Linked DNA regions of Homo sapiens. The protein of the gene in region 2 interacts with the protein of the main gene of each other region in a pairwise test. Each region holds a gene or a part of one and is shown on either strand. Other genes may lie near its edges. The genes, in order: LZTS1, TSGA10, CDC73 and ZNF490.

What was found.
Region 1: the proteins of TSGA10 (region 2) and LZTS1 interact in binary tests that used the Homo sapiens proteins (3 or more experiments, as listed by UniProt).
Region 3: the proteins of TSGA10 (region 2) and CDC73 interact in binary tests that used the Homo sapiens proteins (3 or more experiments, as listed by UniProt).
Region 4: the proteins of TSGA10 (region 2) and ZNF490 interact in binary tests that used the Homo sapiens proteins (3 or more experiments, as listed by UniProt).

Annotation. Positions count from the first base shown.
Region 1 is NC_000008.11:20,245,646-20,251,968, reverse strand, and holds the end of LZTS1 (leucine zipper putative tumor suppressor 1), read left to right. Parts: intron 1-1,605; coding exon 1,606-2,247; 3' UTR 2,248-5,804; downstream 5,805-6,323. UniProt on the Homo sapiens protein: Involved in the regulation of cell growth. May stabilize the active CDC2-cyclin B1 complex and thereby contribute to the regulation of the cell cycle and the prevention of uncontrolled cell proliferation. May act as a tumor suppressor.
Region 2 is NC_000002.12:99,067,922-99,074,945, forward strand, and holds part of TSGA10 (testis-specific gene 10 protein), read right to left. Parts: intron 5,153-7,024; coding exon 5,097-5,152; intron 3,954-5,096; coding exon 3,785-3,953; intron 1,078-3,784; coding exon 967-1,077; intron 1-966. UniProt on the Homo sapiens protein: Plays a role in spermatogenesis. When overexpressed, prevents nuclear localization of HIF1A.
Region 3 is NC_000001.11:193,117,159-193,125,030, reverse strand, and holds the start of CDC73 (parafibromin), read right to left. Parts: upstream 3,001-7,872; 5' UTR 2,831-3,000; coding exon 2,700-2,830; intron 1-2,699.
Region 4 is NC_000019.10:12,607,795-12,615,617, forward strand, and holds the start of ZNF490 (zinc finger protein 490), read right to left. Parts: upstream 3,020-7,823; 5' UTR 2,887-3,019; coding exon 2,770-2,886; intron 1,409-2,769; coding exon 1,364-1,408; intron 1-1,363. Other genes in the region: ZNF791 (zinc finger protein 791), read left to right, coding at 3,286-3,288. UniProt on the Homo sapiens protein: May be involved in transcriptional regulation.

The DNA.
Region 1 (6,323 bases), on a different chromosome or scaffold from region 2:
CGCAAACCCCTGGCTATGTGCAAGTCAACAACCAGTGGTTTAACTTGCCCACTGCTGGCAGCTGTATCACCCCCATTTAACACCAATGGTATTGGTTTTGGTGTCAGCCTGATTTCCGTCATCGACGTTTATGCCCACATCCTCTGACCTCACCCCTGCATGCACCCAGCCCTCCTCTCTCCTGTCTACTGGAGTAAAGACTACCTCACAAATTCACTGCTGTACCCAGTGACTAGTATCATGCTGGCTTGGATGCAGAGCCCAATCCACATCTGTCAAACGAGGAATCATTGTCTTCTCCTCTTGCTCTTCTTCTCTATTTCCACCCCTATCCCCCATCAAAATTTGGCCAAGAGCAATGATGAAAACCGAAGCCACAGGTTAGACCCATGTGTCTCTGGATCTTGGCCATCTGGGGTCATGGGAGACCAAGGCCAGTCTGGCTGAATCTTAAGAGTGAATGAAGTCCAGAGCATGTGGCTCTACAGAATGGATTCTTGGAACTAGCCTGGAAGCCACCTTCACATTTCCTTTCACAGTAGAAATTTCCCCTTGCCCTCAGTGAAACACTGCACAGTCCTGGAGAAAATCCGACCCTACCCAGGATGCGTGCTTGGGACCAAGAATTTCATTCCAAGGCCAACCCTGTATTCATGCCACGAAGGGAGTGACACAGTCATGGCTGAGGCATGGGCCTGGCTTTGAACCTCAGCTTGACCACTTATGATCCAGGTGATTGTAAATACATTAGCCATGGTGGCAATGGGGTATAGTGATTAAACTGTTGGGATCAAATCTCTACTCTTATACTTTATATTTTATATATATATATATATATATATATATATATATATATATATATATATATATTAGCCCTCAGGCTGGTCACTTCACCAGCTATTTGCTATCATAACCTCTCTGTGCCTCAGTTTCATTGATGTAAATTGAGGACTACTAATAGTACCTACTTCATCGGGTTGTAAGGAATAGATGAGCAAATGTATGGCTTGGCACTTAATAACACTACAAATTATTAGTGAAAGTATGTTTATAATAATATACTTCTGTGTGGCTAGGCGTGGTGGCTCACGCCTGCAATCCCAGCACTTTGGGAGGCAGAGGCAGGCAGAGCACTTGAGGTCAGGAATTCGAGATCAGCCTGGCCAACATGAGGAAACCCCGTCTCTACTAAAAATACAAAAATCAGCCAGGCATGGTGGCAGGTGTCTGTAATCCCAGCTACTTGGGAGGCTGAGGCAGGAGAATCAGAGGGGAGGCGGAGGTTGCAGTGAGCCAAGATCACGCCACTACACCCCAGCCTAGGTGACAAAGCGAGACTTCTCAAATAATAACAATAATAATATACTATGTGTCATTATACATGATTATTATTATTTTATCATTTTACTATATAGCCTAGCTCGATAACCTGGGGAAAAGGTCACAGCAATGTTCAGCTTACTTTCAGATTGGACAAAGGCTGGAATGCCTAACACCGGGCCACCGCATCCGGAGTGGCTTGGTTATTTTAGGCAGCTGAGCTGTCACTTCCCTGGGTAAGGACACTCACCTCTTGGCACTCTGTCTCCACCCCACCCTCGGCAGGTGTGCCAGAAGTCAGGCGAGATCTCCCTCCTGAAGCAGCAGCTGAAGGAGTCCCAGACGGAGGTGAACGCCAAGGCTAGCGAGATCCTGGGTCTCAAGGCACAGCTGAAGGACACGCGGGGCAAGCTGGAGGGCCTGGAGCTGAGGACCCAGGACCTGGAGGGCGCCCTGCGCACCAAGGGCCTGGAGCTGGAGGTCTGTGAGAATGAGCTGCAGCGCAAGAAGAACGAGGCGGAGCTGCTGCGGGAGAAGGTGAACCTGCTGGAGCAGGAGCTGCAGGAGCTGCGGGCCCAGGCCGCCCTGGCCCGCGACATGGGGCCGCCCACCTTCCCCGAGGACGTCCCTGCCCTGCAGCGGGAGCTGGAGCGGCTGCGGGCCGAGCTGCGGGAGGAGCGGCAAGGCCATGACCAGATGTCCTCGGGCTTCCAGCATGAGCGGCTCGTGTGGAAGGAGGAGAAGGAGAAGGTGATTCAGTACCAGAAACAGCTGCAGCAGAGCTACGTGGCCATGTACCAGCGGAACCAGCGCCTGGAGAAGGCCCTGCAGCAGCTGGCACGTGGGGACAGCGCCGGGGAGCCCTTGGAGGTTGACCTGGAAGGGGCTGACATCCCCTACGAGGACATCATAGCCACTGAGATCTGAGGGGCTGCCTGGGAAGGCGAGTCTGGGGACCTGGCACTGGGAGGCAGGGCTCTCCCGTGCATCCCCCCTGCTCAGCAATTCAGACCCCTCTGAGAGACGCCACTCCCTGGGACACAGACCCAGGACCCCCGAGGGGAGGGCAGGATGGCCTTTCCTTCCCTCTCTGATGTCCCAGTGCTCACCAGCCCTGCAGCCCACCAGACGTCAGGCCCTGACTCCTCTGGCTTTCCCAGGAGATGGGTCCAGGGGTCTGTCTGCTTTGGTTAAGGGCTCCCTAAACTTTGGCCTTTGTTCGAAATAGATATCCTCTCCCCCTCCTCCAGGGAAGGTGGCCACAGCAAGTACAGCGGCTCCCCTCTGCTTCTCATCCCAACCTCTTTTTCCTCCTGGACACATTGGAATGCCTTGGAAATAGAAAGAAGCCATATATGACCAGAAGCCTTGGAACCAGCCCCATCAGAACCTGAGCTATTTTCCTCTGGCCGCAGAGGTGTAGGGGTGGAATGAGCCGCGGGGAAGCTGGCTTTGAAACCTCAGGGCTGTCCCAGCCCCGGCAAGCCACAGGAAGGAGGGGAGAGACAGGCAGCCCAGCAGTGTGGAGACCCTGCCACAGCCAGAGGAGGGCAGAGGGAGAATCCAAGGGTTGAGAGCCAGTGGCGGGTGATGGCCAGCCCCTGGGGCCCAGCCCCTGTTTACTGGTTCTTGCAAATGGGAGCTGAGCAGCCTCTGGACAGCCAGTGACCTTTGACCTCGGTGACCACTCTTCTTTAAGCCATAGACCCTGAGGCCCTGGGCTGGGTGCTGGGAAGGGAGGGTTGAAACCACCGTGAACCAGAGGGTGTGGCTTTCCAGGCACCCTCAGGGAGCCTCCCCATCTGTCCAGCTGGGGCCAGAGGCTGGGAGTCCCTACCTGCTTCACGTTGGCCGGCGGCTACTCTGGAATGTTTTTCCCTCCCCAGAATCAAGCTTTTGCTTGATCCAGAAGAGCCCATATCACTAAGATGGCATATATGTGATCTGGGCATTTTCCTCCTCTGCCTACAGCCAGGTTTAGCGGCAAACCTTTCCCCCTTAGCACCTTCAGGGCTGAGTTCTGGGTTTCTAGAGGTCAGGACGGCTCCTCAGAGCGCCAGGAAGCCAGAGCCCCAAGCAGGACGAAAAAGAGGCATACACACAGCAGTGTGAATAGCCTGGCCACCAGCCATCCTCCCTCCACCTCAAGACCCCCATTTGTCCCAGACTAAAGGATCCAGAGAGCAGCTCCCTTTCTCAGGAGCTTGGGCAGTGCCCCAGGGAGTCCAGGGTTTCTCTGCAGATGTGCGGAGCGGGAGGCGGTGGTAGAGAGAGATAAAAGGTGGAGTTTCTCTGTTGTTTGGTTCAGGGATTTTATTTTTAATTTTATGAGACAGGGTCTTGCTCTGTCCCCCAGGCTGGAGTGCAGTGGCATGATCATAGCTCACTGCAGCCTCATACTCCTGGGCTCAAGCAATCCTCCTGCCTCAGCCTTCCAACTAGCTGGGACTACAGGTGCGCGCCACCGTGCCTGGCTAACTTTTCATTTTTTTTGTAGGGACGGGGTCTCGTTTTGTTGCCAAAGCTGGTCTCAAACTTGTGGCCTCAAGCAATCCACCTGCCTTGGCCTCCCAAAGTGCTGAGATTGCAGATGTGAGCCACCGTGCCTGGCCAGATTTTTCTTTTATTCTTCTTTCTTTTTCTTTTTTGCTTTCTTGTCTTTTCAGAAGCAAGCCAGACCTAGCAGGCTGTTCCATGTTCTATTTTTGACTGTAGCCACAGCTGCTGTTCTCAGGACAGCATCCCTTCCCACATGCCTGCGCCTGCTGCCTGCTGAGATGAGGAGGGGAGCGTCTGGGAACTTGCGAGTCCAAGGCCAGTCCCCATTTCTGCCTCGCTCACCGCTGGCCCTTAGAGACCCCGAGGTAGGGGTGGGGAGATGCTTCTCTCCTTGCCCCCCGCCCTCATGGGTCCTAGCCCTTCCCTGAGTGCGGGCTGAGGCCAGAGTCACCTTTTCTGTGGCTGGCTCTACCTTCCTGTCCCTGAGGTTAAACGGTGCCCATCCTGCCATCCTCAAACGACAGAGGAGCTTTTCTGGAATTTCAAACCATTGCTCTTAGTCCCAAGCTAGGCTTAAACCTGGAATCTACAAGCCAAAAGTCCCTCCCTGCCTGAGGGCAGTACCCTCCATTGGGCACAGTCCAGACCCAAGTCAAAGATGCCCCATTCCTTGCGCCTCAGCCCTCAGTTCCTTCATTTCCACCAGGCCGTGCCTTGTTTGAGTTTTTCCTCCCAGTGAGACTGCCCCACGGAGACAGAGGAAAGGGCTGGCTCCCCCTCCCCAGGCTGGAGACCCCCCCCCAACTCCAGGAAAGAGCAGTCAGAGTCCAGTGCTCTGCCTCAGACGTTGCCTGAGAAGAAGTGGCTGCCACACCCAGGGGAAGGCCCTGAGGCGGAGGCTGTGCTCCGCCATGGTGTCCCGGTACCTTCCATACACAGAGGAGTGCAGCCTTCTCCATATCTCCATGGCCCTGTCCCAGGCCGGCCCAGATGTGTCCCCCCCAGGCCTTGTCCTACGTCCAAGGTGGCAGATGTCTTCCCTGGGCTGCCACCAGCCCCCGCCCCAGAGTGGCCCACCGTGGCACTAGAATGCAAGTATCCTGCGACCTTGCAACCTCACCTTCCTGTGGGTGTTCTTTCCTGCCCTGTCCAAAAGCGCCCTCACTATTCTTGGACCATGCCAGATTCTGCCTCTCTGGAAAGAGGCTCTGGACAGCAGAAGCCTCCAAGCACAGAGCCTGGCCCCAGGCCCCAGACAGGGTGGGCTTCCTGCCCTTCCCTCTGGGCACGCCTGCTGGCCGACCCACTGACCCACTCGGATGGACCAACCTGCTCTGTCCCCAAAGGACGCCTGCAGGAGAGAGCAGCACTCCGCATCACCTCACCAAGGATCGGACTCTGCCCCTGGACCTGGGAACGACTGGACTGTCACGGGGTTCCCTCCTAGCTCTCCCAGTGAACTCCTGCCAGGCACACACAGCCCCTATAGCACTGAGCTCACATGGGACTGGGATATGGGGGCATCTCTTCCCCAGAGAGGCACTCAGTGAGCCTCCTGTGCCTGGCCCCAGCCTGGGCCATCTCTTAGGTGAGACAGTTGCCCGAAACTAAGCCAGGCCTGGCTGGAGGAGCAGCAGCTTGGGGAGAGGGATTTCCCTGCAGACCTCAAGCCATCATGCGGTGGGTGCTGCCATGACAGAGGCTGCACCCCTGGGCCAGCGGGGCTGCTCACCCACCTCTTGTGCAAGGTGGCCTTTGTGCTGCGCCTGCAGGCAGAGCTGGAGCCCCCAGCAGAGGCAGGCTGGGACGGACCAGCATCTGGAAGATGTACATAGTTATTTTTCTCTTTGTGGTTTCTTGTTTGGTTTGGTTTGCTTTTGACAGCTTCATTTTATTTTTGACGTCACTTTTTGGCCATGTAAACTATTTGTGGCAATTTTATGTTTTTATTTATGAATAAAGAATGCCATTTCTCACGCCCTCTAGAGCCACGTGTATCTGCCCTCCTCTCCCCTCGCTGCGGTGTGGCAGCTCCCTGGGACTTCTCCCCTTGGAACAGGAAAGATGACGTCCCTTCCACCAGCGAAGGGGGTGAGGAAGGCAGCACAGGGCAGTGGGAAAGGGGCCCCCGGGGTCAGACAGGCTTCAGCTGGCCCCTGCCCCCATCGCCTACCCCGGGACCTTATCTGTGAAATGAGAGGAAAAGGGACCCAGGGACAGGTGTCCATGTAGAGTCAGAGCGTCCTCTCCAAAAGAGAGCCCCTCCCCACCCAAACTGCATGCCCTACCGTCTGCTCACCTCACCAGCCAACTCCTGGGTCTACTGCATATGGCCTCCTGGCAAAAGACCAGCATGGCTACAATTGCCACTGCCCCAGGGCCCCCTGGTGGGGCAGGTGCAGTCACCATCATGGCCATCTGTCCAGCCTTCTTGGTTCCAGCCTACCTGGTGCCCCCTTGACAACCTTCCCTACCATCCCGGGCCCACAGCCTAGGCCCAGAGG
Region 2 (7,024 bases):
TGTGCTAGGTGTTTTAAATTATCTCACTTACTTGGGTGTTCTTCCCGATTACAGATGGGAAGAATCAGAGAGGCTGAGTAGCCTGCATAAATAAAAAGCCTTTTGTTCATTTATGGTATTACATTGCTGGAACCTTAAAATCAGGAAGTGTAGGAAACCACGTGCTTTTCCTACACAGGCTGCTTGCTGCCTGAAAGCAAGGATTGCAATTTAGAAATCCTTAGAATCTCTTCTGTCTCAAAGCCCTTAACAGTACTATGCATACCATAAATAAATGTTCAAGATATGTTTGTGGACTGACATGAAATGATAAAATAGTATAGGTGGATTGATTATTATAATAGGTATAGTGTTACCTACATACCACTCAAACCATTAATGGGAACATCCTCCCTCAATTTTAGATAATATTTTACCTAATAGACATATCTAAAATCCTCAGTAAAGCTGCCTGTTTATTCCTGAGTTGCCACACATGCACCACACTTATTGGAGTCATCTGATGTCATGTACATGTGCCTGGTCAAATGATTGCTAACAGAGAAGTGTGAGGAGAACCATCTGCCTTGTGGTCCTAAAAAAAATAGATGGTCCCATAACAGGGTAACCAATTCTGATCTGCTACATAATCAGGTGGAACCTCTTTTGTCAGAGGTTTATAACTGGAAACCCCACCACTTTCAATTAATTATAAGCGAGGTCAAATTGATTTTAGCCCTTTGTCCATCATCCAGTTAGGAAGATTCTGCTTGTCTAGAGTGGCAGAGTTGCAAAACAAAAGGGGCATATTCTCCAGGCATCTTTCTGAACATTCTAAATATGTAGTTAACCCACCATTGTCAAAACTAAAATATACTATGTATTAAAGAAAGCTTTGATTCACCTGTCGTTCTGAGTATACCAACTTCTAAATTAACTCTAGTGAAAACTAAGTATCATGAGCAAAAAGAAAAAAAAAATACATACTTCAGACTTTAATATATTCTTCAGCTTGTTAACCTCCAAATTAGTATCTTGAACCTTCTGTTTTATGTCATTAAGTTCATTATGAGTGTCATTCAATTTTTTGGACAGTGCCTACGAAAAAAAGATAGGTATATTTGACTATGAAAAATAAAAAATTTCTATATCTCAAAAATACCATAAACAAATTTTTAAACACTTGGAACAAATAAAATTAACATACCTAATATATAAACTCATATAAAAAAAGAAAACACATAAGCCCAATAGCAAGTGGGCAAATGACCCAAATAAGCAATTCAAAAAAGGAAGCATAAGTAGGTAAGACCTGAAAAAAACTCTACTAGCAACTGAAGATATGCTAATTAAAACAACACATTACTATTCTGCTTATCAAATTAATAAAGATTTAAAGCTATTCAGCTATGGTAAAGAATGGGCATTTCCATGTACTACTGGAGTAAATGTAGATTTGCAGAAAGCAAATCTGTGATCAGGAATCTGGTGATGTATCAAGAGACAATTTTTAAATGCTCATAAAAACAAGAAAGACAAAAATGTTGATTATTTTTGAAGGTGGGAAATGGCACATGGGGATTCATTATATTTGAAAATGTCTATTTACATTTTTTTAATTTAAAAAAGAAACCTCAGCTGGGTGTTTTTCCTGTAATCCTGGCACTTTGGGAGGATCACTTGAGCCTAAGAGTTTGAGACCAGCCTGAACAACATAGTGGGAACCCAACTCTACAATAAATAAATAAATAAATAAATAAATAATAATTAAAAAGAAACCTGATAATCTGTGATTCACTCTGAAATGAAATCTAATAAAATTTAATGAGATGCTGTCATTAAGGCATTTGTTACAGTGACAATATTTATTCACATTAAGTGAATCATGCAGTAAATAATAGTATATCTACATAGTGGCATAACCACATAATGGAATATTACATACCTGTGAGAAATGTTTGGAATGATTTTTAATAATACAGGGAAATATTTGCCTATGTTAAGTGAAAAAAAAATCGTGCTAAAACACAAAAATACCTCATTATCCCAATTTGTTAAAAATTGTGGTATCAAGGATAAATTTTTTTTAAGTTTCCACTTTCTCGTCTTCTGCAATACTGGTTCTTAACCTGTGGTCCACAGAGAGAGACCTCTCTTCTACCTTGGGCCTATGACCATAACGAAGAAAAAACTACTTTTGAGCATATGTAAATTGTTATGACAACAGTTTTCTTCTGATTATAAAAAATGTTTACAAAGTTTGAACAAGGCAGGAAAATGCTTACAATATTATAGTAAGCTAATAATAGCTATAAAATATTTATTGAGTGATATACTGGACAGTACAGTAAGTGCTTTCCAGGTATAGTCTCACTTATTAACCATTTTTACAGATGCTACAGAGACTCAGAGAAGTTGGTTTATATGATCACACACGCAGAGAGCAAGATTCAACCCATGTGAATCTTACTCGACTCTACTGCCTCTTCATGTAGAAAAAAGCATGATCTAAAGTGATAGGTGATTTTATCCCACTACATTAGAAAATGTGTATAAAAATAGTGTTAAAATTTTTAAGTGCACTGTATAGCAATTAAAAAAATATGTCAAATATAACAGTAACTGAGTATCAAAAACATGGGGGCTTTTCTAAACTCTTAACTTTTTGTTTAGAAAAAAGACTTTCTATAATAAGCTTCTATTTCTAAACCAATCAAAAAAATAGAAACTAAATTTCTAGGTTTTCATAAATAAGATATATCCACCTTTAGCCCATATGCTCTAGCTGTAAAGAGTACACAAAGGCAAACCTTACAAATTCCCATGTTTTGGTTTTTATTGCTATTCATTAATTTTTTAAATAAACTTTTAGAATAGTTTTAGATTTACAGAAAAGTTGTGAAGACATTATAAAGGGCACCTCTATTGTTAACATTTTACATTAGTATGGTGCATATGTCACAATTAATAAGCCAATATTGACACATTATTATCTGAAGTCCATACTTTATTCAGATTTCTTTCCTTTTTTACATAATGTCCTTTTTCTATTCCAGGATCCCATTATTCATTTACTTTTAAACAAAATACTTTAACATCTCAGATAATTTTTTATGATTAACAAAGTATTACAGCTTTATAGCTGTTTAAGTAAATTAATAATCTTCAACAGTTAAAGAACACAGACTTTCAGGATGCAAACTAAACACACTGAAAGTGATACAAAGTGGGGAAAACCATTTGGTCTTAAAAATTTTGAGAAGGGAAGAAATTTTCCAAATAGGATTTTTAAATGTTCACGTTAAAATAAATGTTATTGGAAATGAGAACTGCAGATTAGACTTAAATATATTGCCTTAGGGAGAAAGAGTAATTATAAGAGGAACTTTCCTAAAAAGAATCACAGTGCTAATGAGAACCAAAAAACAAGGCACAGTCCATACATTCATACTTAAAACAGAATAATATGTAGTCCATTTTTTTAAAAAAAAAACACCTATTCTTTTCTTTAAGGTTTCTCAAGGTTTTTATTCTCATTTTTTGATTATTCAAATATTTATCCTTCAGCAAGGAAGTACTAAGCTTTAATACAAATATAGCCCTGTTCTCTCTTTTCTTTAATATTTAACCCTTTGTGTCTGAGAATTCCATTTAAAAATTATGTGGCCTATTTTGTTATTTTTTAAAAAAAAGAAAAGGCTAGTTCCAGTGTCTGAGCTCTTCTATAAAATAAAATGAGGGCTGTTCCTCACAAGAAATTCATATTTTTTTTTCTTGGAGAAAATGATTCTAGGAACAAGTGTACCTGGTTTTCTTGTTTAGCTTTAGCAAACTGTTCCTGGAGATTGTCATTGTCATGAGCCAAGATATCTCTTTCCCTGGCGATCTGGGCCAGCTCATCATTTGTCTCATCCAATTGCCGACGCATTCTGGAAACGTCTTGTTCACACACAATTAGGGCCTCAGTACACTGTCTATTCCACAAATCAAAGAGTACATAAGAAGAGACATTTTACTGAAACAGAGCAACAAATTCTCACAAGACAGAAGATGGACAGTTAGTATGAAAACATTTGAAGAGATTTTAAACACGTTTGAATTTATAGGAATAAATACTGCAAAGACAGTGCATTAGAGTTTCTCAATGTTGCCATCATTTCGCTATGAAAAGGATACAAAGTATACATAATAGTCAATGATTTGCCAAATATTTCAAAACTTCTTACATCAAGTATTAGGAAGGCTTTCATCCTACTTCTGTTATGGCTTAGTCTCCTTTACAGATTCCTCTTCCTCTGCCCACTTAAAAATTAATGCTTTTCAGGGCTCAAGCCCTAGCCTCCCAATTATTCTCACTCTAACCCTTCTCTCAGACAAACTCTATTCATATCCATGGTTCCCAACCCCATCTAGATCCAATGACTCCAAAATAATTATCTCCAGTTTTAGACCCTCTGTTATACTCCAGACTTATATTTAACTGCTTACTAGACATGTCTACAATAAGGTCCCAAAGGTTCTTCAAATTCAGAGGTAAAATCATTTTTTCTCCTCATACTTTCTTCATGTTCAGTATTTGTCCCTGGCCAGAAACTTGGCATTTTCCTGGTGTCTCTCCCTCATACAAAAGCATTTCACTCCTTCTGTCCCACAACTCCTAAACCCCAATTTATCACCACCTCTTCTGCTTAGGTATCTTTCTAACACAAAATTCTCCTCAGAATTCTTTAATGATTTCTTATTGCCCAAAGGATATAACCAATACTCATTTGTCTGTTACACAAGCCTCTGCCTGCCTATTTAGTCTCCTCCCTTCACTTCTCCCCTTACACTCTAGGTTTCAACAACACTCACCCACTTGTAGGTCAAGAGGCTTGTCAACATGATCTGTGGTTCTTTGCTATTCTTTCTACTTTAAATGCCCTTCCCTTCCCCTTATTTTACTTGGCAAACACCATCCCCTCTTTTAGTTCCTTAGACAGACTTAGGCCTCCTTTGATGAGAGAGTTAGCACCTTACACGTATCATTAAGCCCCTTGTTTCTTACTATCTTTGTACCTAACATGGTACTTGGCCCCCCAGTAAGAGCTCATATATTTGTTGCACGACTGATTTACCTTGATGCCTGTTCCATCTCAGCAATGATATTCTTCATGCCTGAAATGGTCTTTTCCTTGAAAAATAATATAAGTATTAAATAAAAAAATCTTAAGCTGTTATTTCTGTTAAAATTGAATGAACAAAAAGAAAATTTCCCTTTCCCTTTAGGTTTCCATTTGGTTTTAAAAACATGTATGTCCTATTCTTTTCCACACTTTAAAGCCTAGTATATCAATGTGAATATTTGCACTGGGTAAAAATAGATTATGTTCATTAAAGTAAAGGCTATACTTAGGTGTAATTATGAGATCAGTATATCAAATTCTTTGTCAAAAGATATTTTATGCAGTCACCCAGCAATACAAGAACCCTATAACCACCTGTTTTTGGAGGCAAACCAATGGTTTGGCATTGGAGTATTGGCATTTTATACTGGGATTTAGAACTGGTTCTCTTGCTCACATTCTTTATGTTATAAAACCCAGAGAAGCCAATCATGTATACCTAAATTTAGTTTTTAAGAATAATTTTGATTAAGTGTATTATTTATATTAGCCAGCAACAAAATCTTCAAAAAGCTGTTCCAATCCAATTACTTATAGAAGTATACTACTGATATTTAGGTGAGAGCTAATAAGAAGGTAAGCATTAGGCCTCGAGCAAAGGTAAGAGAAATAAACTATATTTTCCTTTTTCAAAGGCGTGATGAGGGAGTAGAAGTAGTGGAGTCAGTCAAGGCAGAAATGGGTTTGAATATCTTAATGCCTTTAATACCATTCCCACACCTCTTTTTAAAACTTCCATTGACCCTGAACTAGTCCAACTATAAACAGATACTTAGAGCTAACATTAGCCCTAAAAAAGTAAGAAAGTTATTTCACTAAGTAATAACTAGATTTCACCTTGCCATTTGAATTTTCAAATTTTAAGTAACTAAGTAAAAAGATTTTTAAAAACCCAAACCTATATTTTCCAACCAATTCTGTTCCTGTTTCTTTTCTTTTTTTTTTTTTTTTTTTTTTTTTTTTTGAGATGGAGTTTTGCTCTTGATGCCCCGGCTGGAGTGCGAGGGCGCGATCTCGGCTCACTGCAACCTCCGCCTCCCAGGTTCAAGCGATTCTCCTGCCTCAGCCTCCCAAGTAGCTGGGACTACAGGCATGCGCCACCATGCCCAGCTAATTTTTTGTATACTTAGTAGAGACGGGGTTTCACTATGTTGGCCAGGCTGGTCTCAAACTCCTGACTTCAAGTGATCCACCCACCTCGGCCTCCCAAAGTGCTGGGATTACAGGCGTAAGCCACTGCGCCCGGCCGTTCCTATTTCTTTAGCGTTAGTTTTACACATATTTGCGTGTGTGTGTGTGTGTGTGTGTGTGCTATCTTCCTTTATTCATGTGCTCTTCTCCAGGGTATTTTTAGCTACAGTTTCCCATTCTGCTTTCTCATGGAATGGTACAGATTCCACATCTGGCAGTAATAGATACTGGTGTGTTGTTAAAATATGCATTAAAAAAAAAGTTAAACCCCTTCAAGAAGGACAAGCCAACGAAGGAAAAACTAAAAGACAAAATACTCCATAAAATGGAATGTTTACACATTTTTGAAATATAATTTAATACATTTCTAAACAAATTCTGAAAAGCTAGTTGAACTAGTGCTTTTGAAAGTCTTTACTTGAGGCCGAATGCGGTGGCTTATGCCTGTAATCCCAGCACTTTGAGAGGGTGAGGCAGGCGGAACACGAGGTCAGGAGTTTGAGACCAGCCTGACCAACATGGTGAAACCCCATCTCTACTGAAAATACAAAAATTAGCCGGGTGCAGTGGTGGGCGCCTATAATCCCAGCTACTCAGGAGACTGAGGCAGGGAATCACTTGAACTCGGGTGGCGAGGGTTGCAGTGGGCTGAGATTGTGTCACTGCACTCCAACCTGGGTGACAGAGAC
Region 3 (7,872 bases), on a different chromosome or scaffold from region 2:
TGCTAACAACAATGAGTTTAACATAGCTAACAAAAAAAAAGTATAAAATCTAATAATGAATAGACTGTCATGATCACAAAAGAAACACAAAGGAAGGCAATGACAAAAAGCAAGAAGTAGGGAAAATACAAAAAATTCATACTCTAAGGTACTACAAACTTTTTAGAATTAGGCCCAAATTAGGCTCTGGGCTTTACCAATAGAGAAATCTAACCAGATCCATATCGAAGAGGATCCATAAGAGAAAACAATTACACTGCTTAGAAGAAGCACAATTATCACTGGTGCTAAATGTAAAAGAAATTTATCCTATGGCTCTTGATAAATAAGATACTGCTGAACAACATCCTTCACATTCTTACAGTAAACACAACACTGAATTTCAGGGGTATGACTGTTATGGCATCCCTCAAATTAGACCAATAATGTAAAACCAAAATGCTATTCTACCTGTGATAAAACAATGTAGTCTACTAACGGTGCAAGATCTCTAATGCAGGTACTAATATTACCTCATTCCAATCCTACCCTTCCTTCTACACTTTCCCCTTCTATATCTTTGAATCCATCTGAATATGGTCCACTATAATCAGCCCTAAACCTACTTTTCTACCTTCTAGTCCCATTTTTCCTCTAAACCAATGTATTTCAAACCACACACCATCAATTATTGTACTATGAAACCCAATAAATAGTTAACAACCATATTTTTTCTATTTTCAGAATAGAAAAGAACAGAAAAATAAAATGCACTGCATACAATAAGAAGAGTAAGTATTGTTTAGTGTTTTATATGTGTATATATTTCCATGTGCATGTGCACATATAGAAAATAAAAACAATTTCTTGGTGTGATAAACTGCTGAAAAAGTTTAAAATCTACTGTGATAAGCACTCCTTTTTCACTGGCTTCACTGGATTGCTGTCAACACATTTACTTTCCAGTTCTTTATGCCTTTAAGCATACAGCCTTTAAGTATACAGTTCACTCATCTTGGAAGACTTAACCCATCATTTAGCCCAGAGAATTCCTACCTATTCTTTAAAGCTTGTTTGTTCATTCATTCATTCATTCAAGAAAACTTTGTTGGATGTGAACTTGCCAAAGACAATTCTATGGAACCTTCTCCTAAATAACCCCAACTAGAAGTGACTGCTGTCTTCAAAAGCTATTGTAGAAAGCATTTCACATCAACTTATAGAAAGCATTTCACATCAACTTATCTGTTTAATCTCCTCTATTCAGACTAAGTTAACCTCCTTTGAGGTAGAAACCAGAGTCTTAGGAATTTTTTTAATCCTCAGATTGAACCACTTCACACCCTAGGTACTCCTTAGCCATTGTCTAAAAAAAAAAAAATTCACTAAAAATCCAACCACATGTAATTCTACCTATGCAAATTATTCGAAAGGGTAAAATACCAGAAACTCAGAATGTCATTTGATCAACATTTTATAAAGCTAATTAAATCATAAGACAAAAAAATTTTAAAACCAACCAATAGGCAGGGCGCCGTGGCTCACGCCTGTAATCCAAGCACTTTGGGAAGTGGAGGCGGGCAGATTATTTGAGGTCAGGAGTTCGAGACCAGCCTGACCAACACGGTGAAACCACATCTCTACTAAACTACATAAATTAGCCGGCCATGGTGGCGGGGGCCTGCAACCTCAGCTACTCAGGAGGCTGAGGCAAGAGAATCACTTGAACCCAGGAGGCAAAGATTGCAGTGAGCCAAGATCGCGCCACTGCACTCCAGCCTGGGCGACAGAGCAAGACTCCCTCTCAAAAATAAATAAATAAATACCAACCAACAAACTAAATTTCCCTAGTTTTTCATCGACTCTTCATAAAGCTTCCATTCAAAGAAACAAAATGAGTAGGGAAGTTGTAGCTCAAGGTTCTAATTCTAGAAGCGATGCACCAATGACAGTGACATCATTAAAAAGGCCCCTAATGACTGTTAGAGCCGTCTCTAGAAGTTTTCCTGAATGACTTAAACTGATAAAACTTCACATGGACCAACATTCCCAAACATTTCCCTTTAAAATACACTTCCGAAAAATCACACGCACCATCTATTTCTTAGATCTGTAAAGCTCACTCATTTCACCAACTCCTGAAGACCTCTCTAACACAGACTTTTATGACTCTTCCAAATTCACCAAATTTCTTTCCGGTCCTAACTTCAGGGTTGATTCCCTTTTCTCTTCTACAGGAATCACCCCCACCCCAACAATGAAAGGAGATGAAATAAACCAGGAGTTGCAAAGACCAGCGGAGATAGTTACATAGCAGCCTGGAAAAGAGAAAAAAAAAATAAAGAACAAAAAGAGGCGTCTACGGCACCAGACGGTGTGCTCCTTTGTGCACCTATGTTCAGGTATCCCTTGCGCACCAGTCCCACACTTCGCTGGTACACATACCTACTGATAAAAATTAACTGTAAAAGTCAGAAACTCCCACGGTACCTTTCCTTTGGGCTTCTCAAAAATTTTAAGTGATGAACTGCTCTAGAGCTCCGCCCCTTCTTTCCTTACCCTAAAAGTGCAACTTCTGCTCTAGAGAGAAACTTTCTTTTCCCCGAACACCCGTTTTATCCCATCCCCAGGGGAAACGGGGGGAGGGGTTAAGAAAGAGGTCGCCTGGGGGCGCCCAACTCTGCCCTGCCACCCCTGGGCCACAGCCATGCCGGACTTACCCCCAAACAACATAGTTGGTCTTCACATTCTTGGGCCAGGAGAACTCCCCGAAGATCACTTCGTCTCCCTTCACCACAATCTCCTTCTTCTGGATGTTGTACTGTCGCAGGACGCTAAGCACGTCCGCCATCTTCCCCCCCCTCGCCTCCGCCGGCTCGGGGCGCCGCCGCTGCCGCCGCGCCTGCCTCCTTCTTCTCTTGTCGCCTCGCCCTCTTCCTCCTCCTCCTTCGCCGCCGCGACGAACCAACAGCAGCAGCACTAACAGCCGTCCTCGCCTACGACAGCAGCAGGGGCAGTAGCCACCCAGGCCGCCGAGGACCCCGCGCTGTAAGGCAAGGCCCCGCCGCCGGCTGCCCGCGGAGAACGCCTGACTGCGCCCCTCCAGCGAGGCACATCCGCCGCCAGGGGGAGCCGCGACCGCCTGGAAAAGTGCCCCTCCCAGACTTCAGCTGGGCACGGAGCCCACTCACTCGCTGAAACGCTGAGCGCTGGGGCACCGCGCCCACGTACGGCGCACGTACGGGGAACTTTGCCGGGCGCGCGCGCGCGGAGCACGTACCCAGTACCCCGCGGCGCGCACCAAGCGGCGTCAGGTGCGCGCGTACCTGAGCAGTGGGTCAGCACTTCCATCCCCAGCACGTGCACTGAGTATTTAACGAACTGTCTCGGGTGCGACCAGAGGCTCCCCCGGGTCCCTGCTTTGGCCGGGATGGAATTCGGCAAGGATTTGCGGAACACTAGAATTACCTTCCTATTTAGATCGGACCCAGGCCTAGCCAAAGACCTCTAGGACTTAGTGATCCGGAGAAGCCCTTTTGAAAGAGTGGGGCTCTTGGGGTTGGGGTTGGGGTTTTTTGTTTGCTTTTGATGTGGAAAAGAACGAGTTTTGGTTTTTTGTTGGTTTTGAGTGGAAAAGACCGAGTCCAGAAAAAAAAAAAAACAGTTCTGGGCACTGCTCGTCAAGTTACATAGCTTCTCACAGCATCAATTGGTTAATGAAGAAAATGGGGTTAATACGAAGATAAGGTAAACGCGCCTAGCAAGTCAATAAAATATCCTAAATGTTGGATCCTCCCTCTTCATTCTTTGGATGATGACTTTTTCCATCGCGGTCCCTTCTCCCCGCCAATCCCGAAGGGCTATATTCAAAAGGCTGTGTTCCAAGATGTAAATGGGAAAGTTGCCCTAACAGAAACCCCAAACGGTCCAATTTAGAACACTTCCAGACTACCCAATTTTTTAAATGGTACTCAGAAGTCTCAGTGGTGTCCTTGACATGCGTTTTGAGACGGTTAAGATAAGTTCAATATACTATGGCCAACCAAACACATCCTATGGGATTGTTTTTTTTCTTTTACCATGTCAGAAGGAAAAAAGAGGCAACTTTGTGTTTGACATAACCAAATTCCTTGACCTGTTTTGAAAAAAGTCAATCTTTTCACAACGCAGAGGACTACAGATACAGAAGTGTGTGGTTCATTTCCGATATGATCTGTAGCCATTCTGCAACTGTTAGTTTGTGAAATTTTTTTCTGTTCCACCAATGTTTTCACCCCGTAGTATTCTCCTGAATCTCACCCCAAGCACACACATTATAAAGAAATGGCTACAATTACCTATCCCCACATTCTCTATTCATACCTGTGTCAGAGCACTCAGTACCATATTACTTCCCTTTATAGTTTATTTGCCTGCATCCACAAAACTGAAACACCATAGATCTGTGTCCTCATATCCTACTGTCTAACATTATTTGGTACATATTAGTAATAAATGGATGAATTCAATAAATTGATGGAAGCTCCTAGTAAATATCGAGTTAATACATGGATAGAGGCTTCTAATAAATGTTGAAGTAATGAATGGAAAGATAAGCTCAAGGAAGCCAAGATTTCATGATTAGGAGGCTCGACTATAGTCCCTTCAAACGATACTTAATTTTATTTCATACTCAAATAATGATTAAAGTCTCTCTTTTCAGAGAAATTATGTTTTTTAGGTTAATGAATTTTAAAAAGTGGTAAGATAAGTCATTAGTAAGTTGTTGCTTTTAACAGTTAAAGCATTGAAATTTGTAGATCATTTTTTTCCTGACCAGCCTGGGCAACATACCTAGACCCTGTGTCTACAGAAGCAATTGTAGATCATTTTTGTTTTTATCTAAGTACCCTTATAATTGCCCTACCAATACTGGTTCATTGGAGGATGTCAAAATACAATAAAAGGCAAGATTAGTGGTAGAGCTGAAAAATTAGAAAATTAATTAGAAAAAAACAGAAAAATAGTCTGGTTTCTTTGTCTTGGGCAAAAGCAGTCCACATCTCCAGATATTAGCTCCTGAAGAATTCCTAAAAAATCTTTAGTTTTATGTCTTCTGTTAGAGTAAATGCCCAGCAATCAGAAGAAAGTGGTATGTCTTTTTAGTTGGAAACGATGGATCCAACATCATTACCTTGGAGTTTAAACCACTACCTCAATTGCTAACAGTACCCAATAAGGTTCTTTCCACCAGTGCCCAAGGACAGTTTTATTCTGGTTCCTTTTCCAAAGGACCAAATTGCCAGGTTTTAGATCAATCAAAGTCTGCTTAGGTAAGTATTTTGGAAATGCACTTGAACCTACTAGGGATAATTCGGCAGGTAGCATAAGTCTCATGAAGCATTTATTTATATTACTCTGTAATGGTAGAACGTAGGATTGGAAGTAAAATTTTCAAATACATGGGTAGGGGGAGGCTGTTAATTCAAGAAGAGATAATCTGTGGGTCCCAGAAGGGGTTGATTTATTGTCATCAATCAATCATGACTAATGGCAATTTGAAGGGCCATGAAATTTGTTTTTCGAAACTGTTGATAATTTTAGTTTTAGGACTCTGTTAGTTCTCTTTACTTTTCCTAAAGTTTGGGGGAAATCAGTGTGTGGAGTTATAGCTCCCTAGCAAGGAAAAGCCTCAGTCCATCCAGAGAGTAAGCAAACAACAACCCAGACATAGTCATAGTTTATTCCAGGGAATTATTATGGGTTGGGTACTTAATTATGGGTTAATTATTTACTTGATGTCTTTGATATATATAGGTTTATTCAGATTGTCCATTTCTTCTTGTGTGAGTTTTGGCAGATTGTGTCTTTCAAGGGGTTCCATTTTATCTAGGTTATGAAATTAGTGGGATATAGTTGTTCACAGCATTTGTTATTATCCTTTTAATGTTCATGTCATCTGTAGAAATGTCCCCTCTTTTATTTCTGATTTTAGTAATTTGTGTCTTCTCTCTTCTTAGCGTGACTAAGAGGTTCATTGATTTCATTGATCTTTTCAAAGAACCAGCTTTTGGTGTGATTACTGATTTTTTTACTTTCAGTTTTACCAGTTTATGCTTAACTTTTATTATTTCTCTTCTTTTGCTTACTTTAGATTTAATTTGCTCTTCTTTTTCTAGTTTCCTGAGGTAGAAGTTTAGATTATTGATTTTTAGGTCTTTCTTCTTTTCTAATATATACATTCAATGCTACAAATTTCCCTCTAAACACTACTTCGCTTCCTCCCATACACTTTGGTAAGTTATGTTTTTATTTTCTTGCAGCTCAAAATATTTTAAAATTTATCTTGAGATTTCTTCTTTGACTCATGTTATTTAGAAATGTATTGTTTAAACTCGACATATTTTAGAATTTTCTCGCTATCTTCCTATTATTGATTTCTAGTTTAGTTTCATTGTGGTCTGAGAGTAGATATTGTATGCTTTATATAATTTTAAATTTACAAAAGTGTCTTCTATGGCCCAAAATGTGGTCTGTCATGGCGAATGTTCCTTGCATGTTTAGGAAGAATGTTTATTCTGTTGTTGTTGAATAGTCTATAGATGTCAACTATATCAAGATGACTGATGGTGTGGTTGAGTTCAATTACATCCTTATTGATTTTCTGCCTGCTGGTTCTGTTCATATCTGATACAGGGGTGTTGAAATCTTCCACTATAATAATGGATTCATATATTTTTCCTTGTAGTTCCATCAGTTTTTTGCCTTATATAATTTGACGCTCTGTTGTTAAGCACGTACACATTAAGCATTGTTCTGTCTTATTGGAGAATTGACCCCTTATCATTACATAATGCTCTTCTTTATTCCAACAAACTTTCCTTGTTTTGAAGTCTGCTCTGTCTGAAATTAAAATAGCTAATCCTACTTTTTTTTATTGGTGTTAGCATGATGTATTTTTCTCCATTCATTTACTTTTTATCTATATGCGTGTTTACATTTAAAGTGGGATTTTGTGGATAACATAGAGTTGGGTCTCATATTTTGAACCACTCTGACAATCTCTTTTAATTGGTGCAGTTAGACCATTGATGTTCAAAGTTATTATTGATAAAGTTGGATTAATATCTACCGTATTTGTTATTGCTTTCTATTTGTTGCCCTTGTTCTCTGTTCCTATTTATATCTGCCACAGTTTTTCTCCTGTGTGTGTGCGTGTGTGTGTGTGTGTGTGTGAGAGAGAGAGAGAGAGAGAGAGACAGGGTCTTGCTCTGTAATCCAGGCTGGAACCTAATGGTGTGATCATAGCTCACGGCGGCTTCAAACTCCTGGGCTCAAGTGATCCTCCCACTGAAACCTCTAGAGCGGCTGAGACTACAGGTGTACACCACCACACCGAGCTAATTTTTAAATTTTTTATAGAGACAGGGACCCACTTTATTTTTTAGGCTGGTATCAGATTCCTAGGCTCAAGAAATCCTCCTGCTTCAGCCTCCCAAAATGCTGGGATTACAGGCCTGAGCCACTGCGCCCAGCTGTTTGTGGTTTTAATTGAGCATTTTATATGGTTGTATTTTGTCAGTCTTTCTTTCTTTCTTTTTCTTTCCTTCTTTCTTTCTTTCCTTTCTTTCCTTCTTTCCTTCTTTCTTTCTCTTTCTTTCTTTCTTCCTCTTTCTTTCCTTCTTTCTTTCTCTCTCCCTCTCTCTCTCTCTCTTTCTTTCTTTCTTTCTTTTTGAGGTGGAGTCTCACTCTGTCGCCCAGCTGGAGTGTAATGGCACAATCTTGGCTCACTGCAGCCTCCGTCTCTCGGGTTCAAATGATTCTCCTGCCTCAGCCTCCCGAGCAGCTGGGATTACAGGTGTGCACCACCACACCCAACTAATTTTTTGTATTTTTAGTAGAGACGGGGTTTCA
Region 4 (7,823 bases), on a different chromosome or scaffold from region 2:
AGCAAATCAGTGGAGGCCAGGATTGATAGCTTCCCCATTTCGGGTTTTGGTAGACAGGAAGGACGGTGACCCAGACACTGAAAAATACCAGCATGCTGAACTTAAGGATTGGCTTATTGAAAATGTCAGGCAAGTTCCTGGCCAGAAAAGCCACATTGAAGCTCCCATGAGCCAAGGAACCCAGGATTCACAGAACAGTCAATAACCAAATCGTGGTTTTATGTGAAGATGACATATTCAGGCTCAGATTATGTATCCACATGCATGAAGGCTGTAGTCATTCCCCATGAAATTCCTCCCACTTCAGCATCCCAAAGTGTTGGGATTACAGAGTCACTTAGATCAGGGAACTGATAGCAATGACAAAATTAGGTACCCCCGACACTAACCCGTGCCTTATCCGTCTCTTGCATGTTTACCTTGAAGGTCAGAACTGCAGTGATCGTTTTGTCCAAACTATGCAAACAAGTAAACATGACTCCAAATTTGTGGTTTTTGTGTTTTTTTGAGACAGGGTCTCGCTCTGTTGCCCAGGCTAGAGTGCAGTGGCACCATCACAGGTCACCGCAGCCTCAGGTTGAAGCCATCCTCCCGTCTCAGCCTCCCGAGGACCTGGGACTATGCCACCATGCCCAGCTAATTTTTTATCTTTATTTATTTATGTATTTATTTATTTATTTATTTATTTATTTTTGAGACAGAGTTTCACTCTGTTGCCCAGGCTGGAGTACAGTGGCGCGATCTCAGCTCACTGCAACCTCCTCCTCCCAGATTCAAGTGATTCTCATGCCTCAGCCACCCAAGTAGCTGAGATTACAGGTGTGCCTCCCACCATGCCCAGCTAACTTAAAAAATATTTTTAATAGAGATGAGGTTTCAGCATGTTGGCCAGGTTGGAAACCAACTCCTGGCCTCAAGTGATCCACCCACCTTGCCTCCCAAAGTGCTGAGATTACAGGCATGAGCTACTACACCCAGCCATTTTTTTTATTTTTTGTAGAGACAGAGTCTCACTACATTGCCCACACTGGTCTCAAACTCCTGAACTCAAGCAATCCTCCTACCTCAGTCTCCCAAAGTGCCAGGATTACAGGCATGAGCCACTGCACCCAGCCCAAATGTGATATTCCAAAGGATGCAGGTGGCTGTGTTGGGATGGCCAATGAAGGTAAGGGACAATGGAAGTACAGGGTGAGGGCAATGAACAGGACATACCTGAGAGCCTGGTTATTGGCCTTGACTATGGGAGTGCCTTCACAAAGACCCGAAAGACCCCCCCACAAAGAGGTCATAGAAGGACAGACCCAAATGGTCATTATAAACAAGGAAGGTAGCCACGCTGACAGGTAGCGATCTCACTTACAGTTTGAGTCTTGATGCTTTGTCCATGGTGTTCACTGTTCTGCATCTAATTAGAAACAAGAGGATGCATTTTGTGAGTTTCAGCAATTTAGAACTAAACATGACCTTTGACAGCCTTGGAAGCATTGTTCCCCCTGCATCTACCTGTACACACAGAGCTACCAGAAGGGTGGATCATGGGAGTTTTCAAGATTACACTGTCTCCTCTATAATGGGAAAAATGAAATATGTTTCTACTTTAAAAAAAAAATTTAGAGACAGTCTCTCTCTCTCCCAGGCTGGAATGCAGTGGCACAATCTTGGCTCACTGTAACCTCAAACTCTTAGCCTTGAGATCCTTCTGCCTCAGCCTCCGAAGGAGCTAGGACTACAGGTGAACACCATACCCAGCTAATTTTTAAAAATTTTTTGAGAAATGGGGTCTCGCTATGTTGCCCAGGCTGGTTTTGGGCTCTTGGTCTTTCCAAGTTCTGTAGGGACACTTTAGAAAACTTATTTGAGATAAATTTCCTTCCACTTTACAGCAACACGGATGGAACTGGAGGCCATTATCCTAAGTGCGATGATGCAAAAACAGAAAGTCAAAAACTGCATCTTCTTACATATAAGTGGGAGCTAAACAATGGGTAAACATGGACATACAGAATGGAATAATAGACACTGGAGATGCCAATAGGTTGGACAGAGAGGGGGGATGAGGGATGAAATATTACCTATTGGGTACAATATACACTCTTTGGGTGATGGGTGCACTAAAAGCCAGACTTCGCCACTATGAAATATATCCACGTAACACAAGTGCATTTGTAACCATAAATCTACAAAAATAAAAATAAAAATGAAAAGCAATAAAAACATGCTTAAACTAAAAACAAACAAACAAAAAAACAACGAAAACAAACCATTTCCTTCCAGAGTAAAACGCAGTTTACTGAGCACGTCTCATAGATCGTGATTGGTCTGAAGAGTCCCTGTGCCCAGGTTAGGGTTGCAATTTACCACCCGAGCCAAGTGCTCGGGTGTCCTACGGATTGTTTTTTCTTTCTTTCCTTTTTTTTTTTTTCTTGGGATGGGTTCTGGCCATGTTGCCCAGACTGAACTCAAACTCCTGGAGTCAAGCGATCCACCCGCCTCAGCCCACCCACCCCCCGACCTCCCCCACCGCCCCCACCACGCAGTAGCTGGGACTACGGGTGTGCGCCACCAAGCCCTGCCTTGGGGTTCCTTTTCTAAAGTGCCAAATGTGTGGAGGTGGGGAAAAGAAAGGTGGACGCCTCAACGCTGTTATGGTCAAAGATTAAAATGCAACCACACTTTTTATTACACATGATGGGGTAACCGTCTGTTTATAAACAAGGGTCACTATTCCACGAGAGGCCTTACAACATTATGCCAAGCCCCTGGTACCTGGAGGACATCAGACCCTCCTGTTCCTGTGCGGCCTTGACTAGACGACCACTTGCTCTGGACTTGCTCCTCGAGGGGTCGCTCCATCTGGAAACTGAGACTGGAATTCCTGCGCATCCCTGTCCCCGCATCCAGAAACACTGCAGGAAGACTTCCGTGTCCGACCCGAGATCCGGAACAATTTCTGCTTCAACACAATTGTCCACGGAGGGCACCAGTTCCGTCCCACCGGCGGAAGCGAGATCTGCCTAGCTACTAGACCTGCTGCCTAGCTGTCATTCGGACAAAAAGGGGCGGGGCTGTATAATTGTCCAATCAGGGGCGGCGCCGGAAAGGAGGGTACGGCTACGCTGCGCAAATGCGTGCTACGTCACTGTGCGATCGGGTTGTGCTTAGCTTGGGGTCTCCTGGCCCCTTGACGCGTCAGGTTGCTGTACCCCTGCATCGGATGCGCTGTACCCTGCGCTGGCTCCGTGAACCTTAGGGACAACACCGGGACACCCGCGAGGCCGGAAAATGGTGAGTGTGCAGGGCCGGACTAGTTGGAACCGGCCGTGATCGCGGGACCCGGGCCTCCCCACGGTCACCTCCGGCCGCAGTGTGGGGCTGGGCTGGCAGCTGGAACTCCAAGCGTCCTGTCCCGTCCCTGCGCGGCGACTGCGGTCCCAGCCCCGGAGCCCTCTCTGGACAACTCCGCGCCCGCAGCCCCGCGTCTTTCCCAGATCGTGCAGGGACCACGGGAGGGTCCTGGGGAGAATCCCGCCTTGTGTGTTTGGTTTGTGTGGGAGGAGCTACAGTCTGGGGTTCCCAGTCCCTTCTTTCTTCCCAAAGGCTGTTTCCCCCTGAGTCTTCCAAAGATGTTGGAAGCAGAGTCTCAAATCCACTACCCTGTCCCCCCAGCCTAGCTCCTCCCACGGCGGGCCATTAATCCCTAGATTTCCGGATCCCTCCCCGAATTCCCAAACGCCTACTTCCGCTCGCCAGTGGAAAACATCGTCACCAACTCTTTGTCCTGTGTGGTGCATTTCAAACACACGCAGTATTTTAATAATCTTTTTTCCAATAGATGCCTCTTTTAAACGATTTATTTCTTGTTTGTGGATATTTTACATCAGAGAAAAATCAGAAAAATTATTCACTTGGAACTAATCTGCATAAAATGCTGTGGCCCTCATCCTGGTACCTTTCCAGGGCACAGACATCCTATGGGAACTCCTTTGCGTTGAGGTTCCTTTTTGTAAACTTTCCTGGGTAATCTATCTTTTCAGCACAGTTTCAGATTGGCACTGTCCCGCCTTGGGTTTATGACCTTGAAAAGATTTATTCACTCGAATGTCATTTTTCCAATAAATATAAAATATATGTTATCAGAAGAACTTGAGAGACAGTACAAAATATTTCCAAAGGGCAAAAAAGAAATGAATCTCAGAAAACAAAAAACATCCCAATATTACATTTGTTAAAAATTCTTTGTTCTTTCCCTGAGCACATGGAATATGTTTCTCAGGTCTGTTCTTTTAGTTTGATGTTTCAGATGGTATTCCAGGACTTAAACTTGCAACATCTAGAAGCATTCAGATAGAAGTAATACTTTTGTAAACTATTTATTGCCATGGAAATAATTAACTGACATTATTATTTTCTTTTTTTTTTTTTTAACAGATGGGGTCTGGCTGTGTTGCTCAGGCTGATCTTGAACTCCTGGGCTCAAGCGATCCTCCACCCTCAGCATCCCAAAGTGCTAGGATTCCAGGCATGAGCTACTATTACCGGCCCAACATTCTCATTTTCTGAAAGCAATAGTGGGTTTTCTTGTTAAATGGCTTAAAATTTTCTTGCTTCCTTCCTTTATTTATTTATTTATTTATTTATTTATTATTTATTTACTTTTTTTTTTGAGACGGAGTCTAGCTTTCTCGCCAGGCTGGAGTGCAGTGACACGATCTCAGCTCACTGCAACCTCTGCCTCTCGGGTTCAAGCGATTCTCCTGCCTCAACCTCCCAAGTAGCTGGGATTACAGGCACAAGCTACCACGCCCAGCTAATTTTTGTATTTTTTTTTTTTTTTTTTAGTAGAGAGTGTTTCACTATGTTTCCCAGGATGGTCTCAATCTCCTGATCTCCTGACCTCATGATCCTCCCGCCTTGGCCTCCCAAAATGCTGGGATTACAGGCATGAGCCACCACGCCAGGCCTTTTGCTTCCTTTATACGTAAACACTGTGTTTAAGTAATTCTGCTGGATTTTTTTTTTTTTTTTTTTTTTTAAAGACCAAGTCTTGCTCTTTTGCCCAGGCTGGAGTGCAGTGGCACAATTTTGGCTTACTGCAACCTCCGCACTTGGAAGCTGAGGAGCCACAGGCAGATGCTGTTAGGGGAAGAGGGGAGGATGTCTGAGGTTTTAATTGTGGTTTCCTTGGGTGTGTTTTTAGACATTACATTTGAGTTTCACATCTGTAAGGTAGGTACACTGAGTGTAATTGGTGCATATTGACAGCCATTCTCCTGCCTTAGCCTCCCAAGTACCTGGGATTACAGGCACACACCACTATGCCCGGCTAATTTTTTTGTATTTTGAGTAGAGGCGGGGTTTCACCATGTTGGCCAGTCCGGTCTCGAACTCCGGACCGCAGGTGATCCACCCGCCTCAGCCTCCCAAAGTGCTGGGATTATAGGTGTGAGCCATCGTGCCAGGCCTTCTGCTGGATGTTTAAGGAACAATCCTTAAGAATTTAAGGGCCCGGCACGGTGGCTCATGCCTGTAATCCCAGCACTTTGGGAGGCCAAGGAGGGCGGATCACGAGGTCAGGAGCTCGAGACCATCCTGGCTAACATTGTGAAACCCCGTCTCTACTAAAAATACAAAAAATTAGCTGGGCGTGGAGGCGGGCGCCTGTAGTCCCAGCTACTCTGGAGGCTGAGGCAGGAGAATGGCGTGGACCTGGGAGGCGGAGCTTGCAGTGAGCCGAGATCGCGCCACTGCACTCCAGCGTGGGTGACAGGGTGAGACTCCATCTCAAAACAAAAAAAAAATTTAATTAAATTGTCTCATTTAAAATTACTAGTAGTGTTCCAGAGCCTTGTGACTGGGGAGCAGAGGCCTGAGATAAGTGATTCCAAGCTAAGTCCACCTTTGAGCCTGCAAAGAAAGATCATTGAAGGCCCAATTGGTTCTTCCTGGGGAGCCTCCCCTACAGGTCTGCCAGCTACTCATATGCCCACCATGGAAGGATCCTCTTGTACTGAAAGAAACTGCAGAGCACTTGGAAGCTGAGGATGCACAGGCAGATGCTGTTAGGGGAAGAGGGGAGGATGTCTGAGGTTTTAATTGTGGTTTCCTTGGGTGTGTTTTTAGACATTACGTTTTGAGTTTCACTTCCGTAATATAGGTGTACTGGGTGTAATTGGTGCATATTGACAGTGTCTGTGAAGGTCAGGACTTATGTTTCCTAGAGACAGGGTTAATGAATTGGGGAGCTCATTTGCATCAGAACCTCAATCTCAATCTGGTTGAGAGTTTCCTCACTTGGGAAAACGGAAACCTAGGGAAGCTAATGTTTCTTTGCTGCCATAGGAGAGAAGGAGGTGTGGAGCTCCCATAGTTCCTTGCTGATCAGGTGCTTCTATCCTCCATTACCAGGTACTGACCCACTCTAGGGGTTACATTTTTCTTTATTTTTATTTTTTTTGAGACCGAGTCTCACTCTGTTGCCCAGGCTGGAGTGCAGTGGCACGATCTCGGCTCACTGCAACCTCCGCCTCCTGGGTTCAAGCCATTCTCCTGCCTCAGCCTCCAGAGTAGCTAGGATTACAGGTGTGTGCCACCAGGCCCGGCCAATTTATTTTGTATTTTTAGTAGAGACGGGGTTTCACCGTGTTGACCAGGCTGGTCTCAAATTCCTGACCTCAGGTGATCTGCCTGCCTTGGCCTCACAAAGTGCTGAGATTACAGGTGTGAGCCACCACGCCAGGCCGGGGTTACGTTTTTCAAGCTGGGAGAGTCTGGGTCCAAGCTGGGGAATATGTTTAACTTTTTTTTTTTTTTTTTGGAAACGGAGTTTTGCTCTTGTTGCCCAGGCTGGAGTGCAATGGCACAATCTCGGCTCACCGCAACCTCCGCTTCCCAGGTTCAAGCGATTCTTCTGCCTCAGCCTCCCAGGTAGCTGGGATTACAGGCGTGCGCCACCATGCCCAGCTAATTTTGTATTTTTAGTAGAGATGGGGTTTCTCCATGTTTGTCAGTCTGGTCTTGAGCTCCCCACCTAGGTGATCTGCCCACCTTGGCCTCCCAGAGGGCTGGGATTACAGGTGTGAGCCACTGCGTCCGGCCTTTTTTTTTTTTTTTTTTTTTTTTTTTTTTTTTTTGATACAGCGTCTCACTCTGTTGCCCAAGCTGGTCTGGAACTCCTGGCCTCAGGCCGTCCTCCCACCTTAGTCTCCTATGTTCAACTTTTTTTTTTTTTTTTTTTTTTTTTGAGACAGGGTCCCACTCCGTCGCCCAGGCTGGAGTGCAGTGATGTGATCATTGCTCACTGCAGCCTCCACCTCCTGGGCTCAAGTGATCCTCCTGCCTCCTCTGAGTAGCTGGGACTGCATGCATGCACCACAATGCCCATCTAATTTTCGTATTTTCTGTAGAGATGGGGTTTCGCCATATTGCCCAGGCTGGTCTGGAACTCCTGGGCTCGAGCACTTCTCCCGCCCTGGCCTCCCACAGCGCATGGCCTCCCACAATTTCTTGACATCCAAAGATACTTTTGCTGTCTTAAGGTTTTATATTTTCCAGAATGTAATACACGTGGAGTTATTCAGGATATAGCCTTCACAGATTGGCTTCCTTCACTGAGCAATGTACTTTTAAGGTCCTTCTGTGTCTTCATGGCTTGATACCTGATTTCTCTTATCGTTGAACAATATTTCATCATAAGATTGTACCGGCCGGGCACGATGGCTCATGCCTGTAATCCCAGCTCTTTGGGAGGCCGAGGCGGGCGGATCACAAGGTCAGGAGTTTGAGACCAGCCTGGCCAACATGACAAAACCCCGTCTCTACTA